2 linked regions of the Homo sapiens genome follow. The protein of the gene in region 1 purifies or fractionates together with the protein of each later gene. This does not show direct contact. Each region holds a gene or a part of one and is shown in the gene's direction. Other genes may lie near its edges.

Region 1 (3,823 bases):
AGTTTTCCAAAATTCTAATTTCCTCCTTGAGTTCAAATAATTTCCTTGGCAACATGCTACCAGTTTTTACTTGAATTGACTGTTTTGTTTCTTTAATTTCCAAGAAAATGTCTGCCAGCTATTCACATTTGCAATAATGATAGTTTGTCATCATTCTTGCAAGTAAAAAAGGCATTCCATGATAAAAGTGGCCAGTTCAGATCACTTCTCAAATGACTGCACAAGTGCTTTTTTTGGAAACAACCATCATACTTCAGTATGTAACAGAGGTGCTTTATGTGTACATCTCATTTTGTCGTGCAGAATATTAAAAAGACAGGTACCAAAGGGTCAAGATTTAATATAATTTTACTGCTTTTTCAAGGACACTGTTAAGTAGAAACAGCTCTTTTCCCACTGTGAATGCATGGTAGTAAAGAATACAGTGACTTACCACTCAGTTTGTAACTACTGTTTTTGATTCATGCCAAGGGGTGCCGAGCTAGCAGTTTTCCCTACCATTGCTTTTGCACCCTTAGTACAAATGGGAACTTTGTGGAAAAGGCAAATGATAACTTAATATTGCTATGAATATCGTTTTGACCTCATGAGACCCCTGAAAAGATTTTGGTAAACCCCTTAGAGGTCCACAGACCACCCTTTGAGAACCATTAAACTGTTGTAAGCTAGGATCTTGTTCACTGCTGTGCAAAATCGAATTGACAGTGACTGCATCCTAAATGCTGTTCACAGCGATATGGTTCCCACAGTGTTAGAAGAGCCTCCTAGGAGAGGCCCTGTAGCGTTGTGAGAGACAAAGATGGCAAGGCAGGAAAGAACTTGGCGTGGTTAGAATGGAAGGAAGCACGAGGGAGGCCAGAGAACATCAGGAGAGTTATGATATCTGTGTGCCTATTGGTTTGGCCTCTGATTGTGTTGCATTTTTGGATGAGTTGTGTTTGGACCTGGTGATGGCGAGGCTCCCAGAGAGTAGTGAAAATTGCAAAGAGTAGCAGGATACCAGAGACCCATATACTAATAATATAGTTTTTAAATACGAGTATCAGGATGAAGGTGGGGAGGAGTACACAAGTAAAAATAGCAACTTTATCACAGAATGAGACACTGCCACCTCTACCTGTGATTGTGGAAGGTCAGAGATGCACAATGCTTTTCTTGGGTGAAGATTCAGAATAACAAGTTCGCAAACAACTGTAATAGTGTCCATGGCTGGATTGTTCTTAGTTACTTGAATAAATCAGAACTGAACTTGCACATGATTGTGCAAGTGAGAGTATTATGAAATCTTTAGGGATCATACTTGAAGGAACCTTCATTCTTAGTTCTAATTTATTCTGAAGTACCAAATGAAATCTTAACATTGATACAGTACTCACGGTCTATCTTCGTCACGTCATTCTTGCTAACTGTGAGAATGCAAACTGCTGAGTCCTTTTAACATGAATTGCTGGATTGATTTTTAAATATAATCAGCTGTGCGCAGTGGCTCTCGCCTATAATTCCAGCACTTTGGGAGGCCAAGGCGAGTGGATCACCTGAGGTCAGGAGTTCGAGACCAGCCTGGCCAACCTGGCGAAACCCTGTCTCTACTAAAAATACAAAAATTAGCTGGGCGTGGTGGTGGGCGCCTGTAATCCCAGCTACTAGGGAGGCTGAGGCCTGCAGGAGAATCACTTGAACCCGAAGGGGGAGGTTGCAGTGAGTCGAGATCGCGCCACTGGGCGACAGAGCAAGACTCCATCTCAAAAAAAAAAAAAGAAATCTAACATTTTAAAGGTTCTGGAATACTATTTTAGTATTTTAATTTTCTTCAATATATGTTGGGCTTCTGGTTATTAAAAAAAAAAAAGGAGTTCCTGTAGGATTGGAGCTTTAAATCTAAACTGGTATTAGTTTAGAACAGGAAGTGCTAGAAAAGCCTTTACGTTGTGCTCTTATGGGCAAGTTAAGAAAGCAGGGCAGTTTAAAGATAGTGATAGAATTCACTCCGAAGTGTCATGCTTGCTTGGTTTGCGTCTTATCTGTAGTAGAATTGAGTCTTTCTCTCCCGCATTTCTCTTTTTGTTGTGCTTACATGTTTGCAGAAGGACTCCTCATGGACATTTGAAAGAGAAGTTGGTGTTTTAGCAAGATACACCATCCCACCTTTTGCAGGATTGAGAGTTGAATGTTAATAACTACCTGATGGCATAGTACATAATTTGTGAATGGGGATGCAAATATGGGCTTTTACAGTTAATACAGTTTTATGAGATGAAATGCTTTTCTAAGACTTCTGTGTCTTAGATATAAATGTGTCTGCCTATTTTGCTAGCTTTATTTTTTTTTTTATTTTTTATTTTTTGAGACGGAGTCTCACTGTGTCATCCAGGCTGCAGTGCAATGTCGCGATCTCGGCACACTGCAGCTTCAACCTTCCAGCCTCAAGGATCCTCCCGCCTCAGCCTCCCGAGCAGCTGGGACTATGGGTGTGTGCCACCATGCCCTGGCTATTTTTTTATTTTTTTGTAGACATGAGGTCTTACTTGTTGCCTCGACTGGTCTCGAAGTCCTGGACTCAAGCGATCCAGCCACCTCAGCCTCCCAGAGTTCTGGGATCACAGGCTGAGCCACTGCACCTGTATTTTGCTGGCTTTAAAATCTCAATCACATTTGGCATTTGTTTGAAAGAGAACATTTGGGCCAGGCCCCCAAAGATTGAATCACTGCAACTGTTGGTTGAAGAGGACAGTTTGTGAGTGTTATGTGTTATTCAAATTAGGTGTTCATTAAGCATTTGAATAAATGCTCTACTTTGTACCAGTCACAAAAGCTAGGACAGTTATAATCCTTGCCCTCAAGGAGCTTCAGTCTAGTTGAGAGCCACAGGAACTTGTTCCTGCTACTGAGAATAATAATTGTTGGTGCTTTTGAAGCATTTACTGTTATGGGGTACAATCTTAATGCACATGTATTAATAGCCTTTAAACTCGGGTAGGTGCAGTTGTTACACCTATTTTGCAGATAAGGAAACTGAAGTACAAAAAGTTTATGTGACTTGCCCAATGTCAAACTGTTGTTAAGTGACAAAGCCAGGATTTTGAACTCAGGCAGTGGCTCCAGAGCAGGCAGTCTTTAATCAGCTACTACACGATTGTTACTTAAATACAGTTGGGATAGGTGTTTGAGAGAAATAATCAAAGGCAGGGCTAACTTGATCATCAAGTGGGGATGGGGGTGGTGGGAGAATTGTCTTTAAAGGAAAGGCAGTGTGGCTCACTGAGTGAATGAGAAGGGTGAGGTGTGAGTAATGAGAGAGGTCGGGACTCATGTGTTTGCCAACTGTCCTTCAAGAACAGTTTTGTCTGCTCTGTGAAAAGTTTTAGACTTTTTCCTAGAAACTGTGGGAAGTGACTGAAGGGTTTTAAGCAACAAATAAGACGATGATCTATACCAGGGACTGGCAGACTTGTTCTGTAAAAGGCCAGATAGTAAATATCTCAAGCTTTGCAGGGCAGGCCATGTAGCCTCTCTTGCAGCTATTCTACTTTGCCTTTGTAGGACGGAAGCAGCCACAGACAATACATCAACGAGTGGGTGTGGCTGTGTGCTAGTAAAACTTTATTTATGGATATAACACTTGAACTTCATCTGATTTTCAGTATCATGAAATACTGTTTCTTTTTCCAACCACTTAAAGATGAAAAAAACATTTTTAGCTCATAGACTGTACAAAACCAAAACAGGCTGTAGGCCAAATTTGGCCCCTGGTCTGTAGTGTGCTGATCCTGGCTTCCATCCTCCTGCTGTTCTGTGAAGTGGGAGGGGTGGTAAGGGAGTAGAA
Region 2 (3,823 bases), on another chromosome or scaffold:
ACAGGCGCCCATCACCATGCCTGGCTAAGTTTTATATTTTTAGTAGAGATGGGGTTTTACCATTTTGGCCAGGCTGGTTTCGAACTCCTGACCTCAGGCAATCTGTCTGCCTTGGCCTCTCAAAGTGCTGGTGAATACAGGTGTGAGCCCCCACGCCTGGCCAAGACCCTGTCTCTTTGAAAAAAAAAAAAAAAAAAAGAATTTTACCAGTCTTTGATAATTTGGAAAAACCCAGAAAGTGACAGTTTTGCACTTAGTTTTTGTGATTACTAGAAGGTTTCCAATGTTCATTTTCTTTTTTAATTGCTCTGTCACCTAGGCTGGAGTGCAGTGGTGTGATCATGACTCACTGCAGTCTCAACCTCCTGGGCTCAGTGATTGTCCCAGCTCAGCATCCTGAGTATCTGGTACTACCGGTGCGCACTACCAGGCCTGGCTAATTAAAAATTTATTTATTGTTTGTAGAGATGGGTCTCCCTATGTTGCCCAGGCTGGTCTCAAACTATTGGGCTCAAGTGATCCTCCTGCCTTGGCCTCCTAAAGTTCTGGGATTGTAGGTGTGAGACACTGCTCCCAGTCATCAAATGTACATTTTCTAGAAAAAAGGTAGTATATTACAAAGATGTAGTGAATGCTTTTACATACCACAACATACAAATCTTCCAGAAGGATCTACTGGTGATGTGTGTAGAATATTGTTTTATTCCTGTGAATGCATAAAACATATGAATGAACCAAAAATGAAATAGAGATAGTAAAACATAGTGTTAAGAGCCTGGAATTCTAAGACAGCTTGCCTAGGTTTGGATCCTGATTTCTACTCTCAATTGTGTGACCTTGGTAAACTTATTTACCTCTCTGGGTCTTAATGTTCTTATTTCCTTTTTTTTTTTTGAGACAGAGTCTCGCACTGTCGCCCCAGCTGGTGTGCAGTGGTGTAATCTTGGCTCTCTGCAACTTGTGCCTCCAGGGTTCAAGCGATTCTCCTGCCTCAGCCTAGTGAGTAGCTAGGATTACAGGCGTCTGCCACCATGCCTAGCTAATTTTTTTGTATTTTTAGTAGAGACGGGGTTTCACTGTGTTGGCCAGGCTGTTCTTGAACTCCTGACCTTGCGATCGCCTGCCTCGGCCTCCCAAAGTGCTGGGATTACAGGCGTGAGCCACTGCGCCTGGCCTTAATGTTCTTATTTATAAAAAAAAAAATTGAAAAAGGATAATATGGCCTGGTGTGGAGGCTCACACCTGTAATCTCAGCACTTTGGAAGTCCGAGGCAGGAAGATTGCTTGAGCCTAGGAGTTCAGGACCAGCCTGGGCAACATAGAGTGAGACCCCATCTTGACAAAAAATAAACAAAATTGGGAGTCGCTCAGCCTACCTGATTTACCAAACCACTCCCTTGCCAAAAAAAAAAACAAAAAACTAAACCAAAAAAAAAAAAAGCCAGGTGTGGTAGCATATGCCTATAGTCCCACCTACTCAGGAGGCTGAGGTAGGAGGATTGCTTGAGCCTGGGAGGTCGAGATTGCAGTGAGCCATGATTGTACCAATGCATGCCAGCCTGGGTAACAGAGTGAGGCCTTGTCTCAAAAAAAAAAAAAAAAGTTAAAAAAAAAAAAAGTACCTGAACTCAGTTGTGAGGATCAAGTGAGTTAATTTACAGTGCTTAGAACACTGTCTTGCACATAGCAATCACTATATACATTTAGGTGTGATTATGACAATGATTGTTGCAGATTTTATTTCAAAGCACCACGTCAGTATTGCATTTTTAAAAGTTTGCCAGTCTTAAGAATTGGTTTTTGCCATGTAAATGGACTTTATCAGCTACTTAGTTCCCATTTGCTAGGCCAAATATATTTCTTGCACTTGTTCAATAATACAATACAAAGGTCAAGGCTGTATATGTGTGTATTACAAGTATTCTTTTTTCTGGTACCTTACAGTGTATCACATTTAAATAGCATATATAGATAGCAGTGTTAGCACTTCTTGATGTGATAAGATGTATAGCCTGAATTTTTGCACAATTAAATTTGTTTTAGAAAAGTAAATAATCCAGTGTGTAAATCTGTCTTGTCAAGTAGGTAGATTTGTGGAATTCCATAAACATTTTATTGCTAAATCAGGGAACAAAGAGCCTTAAGTTATTTAAACATTTTTGGTACGTGGGTGGGATGGAGTGGAACAGCATTAGTGTTTCCTGTTTGGTATTTAATTAATGGCCTTAACTTTTTTCTTGCCCTACTCCCAAACCATGAAACATAACTCATTTTGTGATAGGGTTCAATTAGAGATTAGGGTTCCATATGTTAAAATTTTGCTTTTTAAAACACCTGAAGTCTGTTTGCTAATTTTGATAAATGTGTTTCATATATGTATTCATTTTTTATTGAGTATGGGTTTAAGGTGAGTGAGGGAGACTTTATTTTCAGAATATTCATTGTGTAGGTTTCCTAAACTGTGGCAGCTGAGGCAAGAAAGTTGTCATAATCATAATATGAAAGTGAATGAACCTACTGCTTTTAGTAAAGTTAGTCACAAATCAAATACTCGCTCACGTTACACTAGTTTTCAGCCCGTCTGGGGATATTAACTTCTTTATTAGTTAGGTTTTCCCTCATTTTTGGGTGTTTTACCACACTTTGCAGATGTAAAGTGAGTGTAAAATGAAATAGTAATTGTTTCAGAGTCTTTAAATGTGATGAAAGAGAACAGCTTGAACAGTATATAAAACTGTAGACACACAAGAATAGGAAAGAATGAAACCAGTTAAAAATCCAACTGACAGTTTGTCAGTTTCTTACAGAACTCAACACTTATAATTCAGCAATCACACTCTTTGGTATTTACCCAAATGAATTGAAAATTTATGTCCACACAAAAACCTGCACACAGATGTTTATAGCAGTTTTATTCATAACTGCCAAAACTTGGAAGCAACCAAGATGTTCTTCAGTAGGTAAATGGATAAATAAACTGCGGTACATCCAGACAATGGGATATTATATTATTTAGTGCTAAGAAGAAATGAGCTATCAAGCCATGAAAAGACATGGAGGAATCTTAAATGCATATTATTAACTGAAGGAAAGGCTGTATGATTCCAACTATATGGCATTCTTGAAGGCACAACTATGGAGACAGTAAAAAGATCAGGAGTTGGATGAATTGGGGTAGCACAGAGGACTTTAAAAAATAGTCATTTTTTTAGAGCAGTTTTTAGGTTCACACCAAAATTGAGCTAAAGATAAGAGATATCCTGTATACCTCCTACCTCCACCCATGCATAGCCTCCCGCATTGTCAACATCCCCACAGAGCCACGGAGCCATACGTTTGTTAAAATTGAACCTACATTGACGCTTCATCACCCAAAGTCCTGTAGTTTATATCAGGGTTTACTCTTGGTCTTGTACTTTATGGTTTGGACAAATGTATAATGACACGCATCAACTCTTATGGAATTGTACACGTAAAATTCACTGCCTTTAGGGCAGTGAAACTTGCGTATGATACCTAATGGTAGGTACATGTTTACACTATATACACCGAAGAGGGACCAGGAGGAAGTCTAGGAAGCAGTTCTTGTAAGTCAGGTTAAGAATTTTAATTAAAAAGGTTTCTTATTTTTTTAATGAGTCAGGATCTCACTATGTTGCCCAGGCTGGAGTGCAGTGGCGTGATCATGGTTCACTGCAGCCTTGACCTCCTGGACTCAGGAGATCCTCCCACCTCAGCTTCCTGAGTAGCGGCAACTACAGGCACATACCACCATGCCTGACTAACTTTTAAAATTTTTTGTAGAGATAAGGGTCTCACTGTC

Evidence for each region.
Region 2: the proteins of RHEB (region 1) and NUDT9 fractionate together in Homo sapiens (co-fractionation; one large-scale study listed by BioGRID). This does not show direct contact.

Annotation. Positions count from the first base shown.
Region 1 is NC_000007.14:151,509,599-151,513,421, reverse strand, and holds part of RHEB (GTP-binding protein Rheb), read left to right. Parts: intron 1-3,823. UniProt on the Homo sapiens protein: Small GTPase that acts as an allosteric activator of the canonical mTORC1 complex, an evolutionarily conserved central nutrient sensor that stimulates anabolic reactions and macromolecule biosynthesis to promote cellular biomass generation and growth.
Region 2 is NC_000004.12:87,425,534-87,429,356, forward strand, and holds part of NUDT9 (ADP-ribose pyrophosphatase, mitochondrial isoform a precursor), read left to right. Parts: intron 1-3,823.